Linked DNA regions of Homo sapiens. The protein of the gene in region 1 interacts with the protein of each later gene in a biochemical or structural test. Each region holds a gene or a part of one and is shown in the gene's direction. Other genes may lie near its edges. The genes, in order: PINX1 and TERT.

Evidence for each region.
Region 2: the proteins of PINX1 (region 1) and TERT form a complex in vitro, tested with the Homo sapiens proteins (one study listed by BioGRID).

The regions. Positions count from the first base shown.
Region 1 is NC_000008.11:10,815,876-10,819,375, reverse strand, and holds part of PINX1 (PIN2/TERF1-interacting telomerase inhibitor 1), read left to right. Parts: intron 1-3,500. UniProt on the Homo sapiens protein: Microtubule-binding protein essential for faithful chromosome segregation. Mediates TRF1 and TERT accumulation in nucleolus and enhances TRF1 binding to telomeres. Inhibits telomerase activity. May inhibit cell proliferation and act as tumor suppressor.
Region 2 is NC_000005.10:1,284,820-1,288,838, reverse strand, and holds part of TERT (telomerase reverse transcriptase), read left to right. Parts: intron 1-4,019. UniProt on the Homo sapiens protein: Telomerase is a ribonucleoprotein enzyme essential for the replication of chromosome termini in most eukaryotes. Active in progenitor and cancer cells. Inactive, or very low activity, in normal somatic cells.

The DNA.
Region 1 (3,500 bases):
AGCCAGGGCCCTTGGTGACCATAGAACAAAAAAGAAGACTTGGTTTATTGATTCCTGGCATTTTTCCAGACTGACAGAAATCTTTATTTCTAGGGTGGTGGTTTGTTTCTTAATAGTAATAATTTTTAGGGAGTCCAGAATTACCAGTGGTTAGAAGTCTCATTAGATGATTCCCTGTGCAGATTGGGACTGAATTCCTGGGTCTTTTAGCCCCTGTCTGCCCCTGCACCCTCAGCAGATGGAAGCAGCAGGCTGGGAAAGGATACCTGGCTTTGGTGCCTGCGCGGACTATGCTGAGTCACGGGATAGGCAGTGGTCACTAGGGAGGAGCCGCTCTGACATCCGGCCGTGCCGGCTGCTCCTTCACAAGGGGCTGCTGGAAAGAGCCATGGTCAGACAGGCTGGCTTCTGGTTGTACCTCTGCCCTCAGTGCTCACCGTGAGACCTGGACTACGCCACTCTTCCTTGTTCACCAAGGACATGGCCTCTGGCTTATCCCAGCCTCCTCTCCAACCCCTCTTCCTTGACTCTCTCAGTCGTCTCCGTGTCCTCAGGAAGAACTAGAATTCCAGTCCCGCGCCTCTTGAACTCCATCTCCTTTGCTCTGCCCAACAGCTGCCCCCACCCCACGATCACACCCTGAGCCTTTGTATCAACTCCACGTCCCTCCCATACCTTGAGATAACCCCCATCTCCCCAGCCCCGTGGGGCTCACGTGCCTTCTGTACTGGCGTTTCCACATCCCTGCACGTTGATCCTCTCTTCTGCCTGCTGCTCACCCACCACCCCCAGCCTTTGCCCTCCCGGACACCCTCTATGAAAATGTACAGTTGAACAGATCAGGGAGGGAAATGTTACTTGTGGGCTTTTGTAGAACTTTAAGAGAATTTATGTGTTTGGTGCAGAAAGCTCTTAGTTGTAAGAGATCAGAGGTTTCTGATCCTCTGGCAGATTTCTGTTTGAGAATTTATTGGGTGTTGGGTGCCTTGAGGTTTTCAACACTGTGTGGTGTTACTTGACTCTTTGGTAGCTAAGTCATGTTAAAGTGAGACATCCACCTGTGTTTGAGGAGCTTCAAAAGCAGTTCCCTAATGCTAGCCCCAGGAAAATCTCTTTTGGTCCAGTGTGTGTAGAGATGATCAACCTTGATGCAACATCGTGTTTTGTGTGAGATTTCCATTAGTCACATCTCTCTCTCTCTTCCAGTTCAGTGTTTTCTTCCAGTGATAAATTTAGGTCCTACCTGTTGGTGAGGTGGTCTTCTACCAGGCCCTGCTCTCCGTCTGTAGCCATAGTTCTCAACAAGGTCGTCCTGGCATTGCCTAATGAGCTTTAAACAAATGCTAATGCCAGGGTTCTGCCCAAGACCGATTAAATTAAATCTTCGGTCAGGGTCCAGGTATCTATATTACAAAAGGAGAAAAATTTAAAAAAAATTTTTTTTTAATTCCTCCCCAATTGTTGCAGCAGTTATTCTGACGTTCAGTAAGGAGCGAGGGTTGAGAACACGGGGATAGCCTGCCATGCAGCTGTACTGAGAGCTTCTGGCTTCCGGGTCGTGAGTAACCCTGAGGACAGAGCTCCTCAAGTCCTGCCGTGTGTACAGGTCTTCCCTGTCAAACTGCAGATTCCAACTCAGGAAGCCTGGGCGGGGGCTGAGAGCCTGTACATCCCCATCCGAGGAGCCCCCAGGTGATACTGCTGCTGACCTGTGTGCCACACTGAGGAGGTCGCGTCTAGGCAGTATTTTCCTTTTGACATGCCTGCATGTGTGCAGAAAACAGAATCTATTTAAATGTAATCACATTTAAGACAAACAGAGTATCTTTCTATAAAGCAAAATGACCTCTACATTTATCTTTGACATCCTTGTGGATGTTCATATGTTAAGTTTGCTTTTATTGAGGTATACCGGTACCTTCCTTGAGTAGACTATTGCTAAGAAACCTTAACCTTGTTAGTTACAACAGCCCTTATAGTCAAAGGCAGGAGGACTTTGATCAGATTTGTTTGAAAATACAACCTCTTTCGGCTCCCATCCTCAGTTGGCGGGAATGTTGTATGTTGTTGCTTCGCTTGACTCTCATAGCTCCGTCGGTCTGGATTTATATTTGGCATTGCAGAGGCCAAGGTGTTGCTGGAGGTCACCTCCCTCCAGAGTCCTGGAAACCGTGGTAGTGCGGGCCACTAAGGTAGCAGTAGCTCTGTGGGTGCTCTAGTTAGGTGCCGATGCTGATCTGTCTTCAGCATCCAGAGTTCCAGAACGTTGGCGTTAACCATGTTCTTGGCTTGGGTAACAGCATCACCCTTGCAATAAGGGAAGCCTACTGATTTTAATTTCTACAGCTCCTGACTGCCATCGTAGAATTCCAATTTTATTAAGCACCTGTGTGCCAAACCCTGTGCTGGATTTTTCTCATTTCATCCTCACAGCAATCCCGTCATGTAAATATCAGTATCTCCTCTGTAGCAGTGAGGAAACTGAGGCACAGAGAGAATTGTTAGAATGCTCCAAAATGGCACACGTGGGCTTTTAAATCTGTGTCCGTCCAATTCCAAAATCAGCCTTTCTCCGATAATACAGCAGTCCTGCCGAAGTTAATGAACTCTTTCTCATTTAACAAAAAATCTACATTGAAGGGGGTTAGTTAGGCCTTAGCAGCTTCTGTTGAGCTTCACCAGAGACACCAGTGGTTGATGCTGTATCGTAACTTTGTGGGAAAATGATTGGCTGTTGCTATTTTGTGGAAAATAATGGTTTAAATTTCAAAACTTCTTTACCTTACCTGTAGTCAGAGGTGAGCTGTTAGGGGTTGACAAGCATGTGACCAGGTGTCCAGGCCAGCCTGAAGAACGACTTGACTTCCTTATTGGCTGGAGGCTGAATTAAGAAAGAGCTTGAGCATCTGGAGCATAGATGTTGTGTTGCTTGTGTATTTTTTCGTCTCTCTATTGAACTGGATGATCTGAATGTATTTATATCTAAGAAACATCTGCAGCCCTTGATTAATAGTCATGAGGGTTTTTTCTTTAACTTTTTATAGATGAACAGGATGTTGCAAAGATAGTAAAGGGGTTCTGTGTACCCTTCATCTGGTTTTCCCCAGTGGTTACATCTTACGTAACTACAGTACAGCATGATGAAACCAGGAAATTGGCATTGGTACCATCTGCTCATACAGCTCTGTGCCCCTTTATCACATTTGTGGATTGTGTAACCATTATTATCTCAGTGAAGATCCTGAACTATTTCATTACCACCAAGGCCTCCCTTGTGCTAACCCCAATCATAGTTGCATACCCCTCCAACACCGCCCGTGACCCTGACAATCACAGCTGCCGACAGAATCGTCTGATTAGGAGTGGAATATCGTGTGTACAGACCACATGGTCTCTCCGTTTGATGCTGAGGCTGCTCAGATCTGCAGGGGTCACTACCCAGTGCTAAAGGCCGATTGTCGTTTCCATGATCTACTTCCTGCACTTAGCCATGCTCAGTG
Region 2 (4,019 bases), on another chromosome or scaffold:
TCCGCTTGCCTCTGTTGGGCCTGGCTTGCTCACCACGTGCCCGCCACATGCATGCTGCCAATACTCCTCTCCCAGCTTGTCTCATGCCGAGGCTGGACTCTGGGCTGCCTGTGTCTGCTGCCACGTGTTGCTGGAGACATCCCAGAAAGGGTTCTCTGTGCCCTGAAGGAAAGCAAGTCACCCCAGCCCCCTCACTTGTCCTGTTTTCTCCCAAGCTGCCCCTCTGCTTGGCCCCCTTGGGTGGGTGGCAACGCTTGTCACCTTATTCTGGGCACCTGCCGCTCATTGCTTAGGCTGGGCTCTGCCTCCAGTCGCCCCCTCACATGGATTGACGTCCAGCCACAGGTTGGAGTGTCTCTGTCTGTCTCCTGCTCTGAGACCCACGTGGAGGGCCGGTGTCTCCGCCAGCCTTCGTCAGACTTCCCTCTTGGGTCTTAGTTTTGAATTTCACTGATTTACCTCTGACGTTTCTATCTCTCCATTGTATGCTTTTTCTTGGTTTATTCTTTCATTCCTTTTCTAGCTTCTTAGTTTAGTCATGCCTTTCCCTCTAAGTGCTGCCTTACCTGCACCCTGTGTTTTGATGTGAAGTAATCTCAACATCAGCCACTTTCAAGTGTTCTTAAAATACTTCAAAGTGTTAATACTTCTTTTAAGTATTCTTATTCTGTGATTTTTTTCTTTGTGCACGCTGTGTTTTGACGTGAAATCATTTTGATATCAGTGACTTTTAAGTATTCTTTAGCTTATTCTGTGATTTCTTTGAGCAGTGAGTTATTTGAACACTGTTTATGTTCAAGATATGTAGAGTATCAAGATACGTAGAGTATTTTAAGTTATCATTTTATTATTGATTTCTAACTCAGTTGTGTAGTGGTCTGTATAATACCAATTATTTGAAGTTTGCGGAGCCTTGCTTTGTGATCTAGTGTGTGCATGGTTTCCAGAACTGTCCATTGTAAATTTGACATCCTGTCAATAGTGGGCATGCATGTTCACTATATCCAGCTTATTAAGGTCCAGTGCAAAGCTTCTGTCTCCTTCTAGATGCATGAAATTCCAAGAAGGAGGCCATAGTCCCTCACCTGGGGGATGGGTCTGTTCATTTCTTCTCGTTTGGTAGCATTTATGTGAGGCATTGTTAGGTGCATGCACGTGGTAGAATTTTTATCTTCCTGATGAGTGAATCTTTTGGAGACTTCTATGTCTCTAGTAATCTAGTAATTCTTTTTTTAAATTGCTCTTAGTACTGCCACACTGGGCTTCTTTTGATTAGTATTTTCCTGCTGTGTCTGTTTTCTGCCTTTAATTTATATATATATATATATATTTTTTTTTTTTGAGACAGAGTCTTGGTCTGTCGCCCAGGGTGAGTGCAGTGGTGTGATCACAGGTCAGTGTAACTTTTACCTTCTGGCCTGAGCCGTCCTCTCACCTCAGCCTCCTGAATAGCTGGAACTGCAGACACGCACCGCTACACCTGGCTAATTTTTAAATTTTTTCTGGAGACAGGGTCTTGCTGTGTTGCCCAGGCTGGTCTCAAACTCTTGGACTCAAGGGATCCATCTACCTCGGCTTCCCAAAGTGCTGAATTACAGGCATGAGCCACCATGTCTGGCCTAATTTTCAACACTTTTATATTCTTATAGTGTGGGTATGTCCTGTTAACAGCATGTAGGTGAATTTCCAATCCAGTCTGACAGTCGTTGTTTAACTGGATAACCTGATTTATTTTCATTTTTTTGTCACTAGAGACCCGCCTGGTGCACTCTGATTCTCCACTTGCCTGTTGCATGTCCTCGTTCCCTTGTTTCTCACCACCTCTTGGGTTGCCATGTGCGTTTCCTGCCGAGTGTGTGTTGATCCTCTCGTTGCCTCCTGGTCACTGGGCATTTGCTTTTATTTCTCTTTGCTTAGTGTTACCCCCTGATCTTTTTATTGTCGTTGTTTGCTTTTGTTTATTGAGACAGTCTCACTCTGTCACCCAGGCTGGAGTGTAATGGCACAATCTCGGCTCACTGCAACCTCTGCCTCCTCGGTTCAAGCAGTTCTCATTCCTCAACCTCATGAGTAGCTGGGATTACAGGCGCCCACCACCACGCCTGGCTAATTTTTGTATTTTTAGTAGAGATAGGCTTTCACCATGTTGGCCAGGCTGGTCTCAAACTCCTGACCTCAAGTGATCTGCCCGCCTTGGCCTCCCACAGTGCTGGGATTACAGGTGCAAGCCACCGTGCCCGGCATACCTTGATCTTTTAAAATGAAGTCTGAAACATTGCTACCCTTGTCCTGAGCAATAAGACCCTTAGTGTATTTTAGCTCTGGCCACCCCCCAGCCTGTGTGCTGTTTTCCCTGCTGACTTAGTTCTATCTCAGGCATCTTGACACCCCCACAAGCTAAGCATTATTAATATTGTTTTCCGTGTTGAGTGTTTCTGTAGCTTTGCCCCCGCCCTGCTTTTCCTCCTTTGTTCCCCGTCTGTCTTCTGTCTCAGGCCCGCCGTCTGGGGTCCCCTTCCTTGTCCTTTGCGTGGTTCTTCTGTCTTGTTATTGCTGGTAAACCCCAGCTTTACCTGTGCTGGCCTCCATGGCATCTAGCGACGTCCGGGGACCTCTGCTTATGATGCACAGATGAAGATGTGGAGACTCACGAGGAGGGCGGTCATCTTGGCCCGTGAGTGTCTGGAGCACCACGTGGCCAGCGTTCCTTAGCCAGTGAGTGACAGCAACGTCCGCTCGGCCTGGGTTCAGCCTGGAAAACCCCAGGCATGTCGGGGTCTGGTGGCTCCGCGGTGTCGAGTTTGAAATCGCGCAAACCTGCGGTGTGGCGCCAGCTCTGACGGTGCTGCCTGGCGGGGGAGTGTCTGCTTCCTCCCTTCTGCTTGGGAACCAGGACAAAGGATGAGGCTCCGAGCCGTTGTCGCCCAACAGGAGCATGACGTGAGCCATGTGGATAATTTTAAAATTTCTAGGCTGGGCGCGGTGGCTCACGCCTGTAATCCCAGCACTTTGGGAGGCCAAGGCGGGTGGATCACGAGGTCAGGAGGTCGAGACCATCCTGGCCAACATGATGAAACCCCATCTGTACTAAAAACACAAAAATTAGCTGGGCGTGGTGGCGGGTGCCTGTAATCCCAGCTACTCGGGAGGCTGAGGCAGGAGAATTGCTTGAACCTGGGAGTTGGAAGTTGCAGTGAGCCGACATTGCACCACTGCACTCCAGCCTGGCAACACAGCGAGACTCTGTCTCAAAAAAAAAAAAAAAAAAAAAAATTCTAGTAGCCACATTAAAAAAGTAAAAAAGAAAAGGTGAAATTAATGTAATAATAGATTTTACTGAAGCCCAGCATGTCCACACCTCATCATTTTAGGGTGTTATTGGTGGGAGCATCACTCACAGGACATTTGACATTTTTTGAGCTTTGTCTGCGGGATCCCGTGTGTAGGTCCCGTGCGTGGCCATCTCGGCCTGGACCTGCTGGGCTTCCCATGGCCATGGCTGTTGTACCAGATGGTGCAGGTCCGGGATGAGGTCGCCAGGCCCTCAGTGAGCTGGATGTGCAGTGTCCGGATGGTGCACGTCTGGGATGAGGTCGCCAGGCCCTGCTGTGAGCTGGATGTGTGGTGTCTGGATGGTGCAGGTCAGGGGTGAGGTCTCCAGGCCCTCGGTGAGCTGGAGGTATGGAGTCCGGATGATGCAGGTCCGGGGTGAGGTCGCCAGGCCCTGCTGTGAGCTGGATGTGTGGTGTCTGGATGGTGCAGGTCAGGGGTGAGGTCTCCAGGCCCTCGGTGAGCTGGAGGTATGGAGTCCGGATGATGCAGGTCCGGGGTGAGGTCGCCAGGCCCTGCTGTGAGCTGGATGTGTGGTGTCTGGATGGTGCAGGTCTGGGGTGAGGTCACCAGGCCCTGCGGTGAGCTGGGTGTGCGGTGTCTGGATGGTGCAGGTCTGGAGTGAGGTCGCCAGACGGTGCCAGACCGTGCGGTGAGCTGGATATGCGGTGTCCGGATGGTGCAGGTCT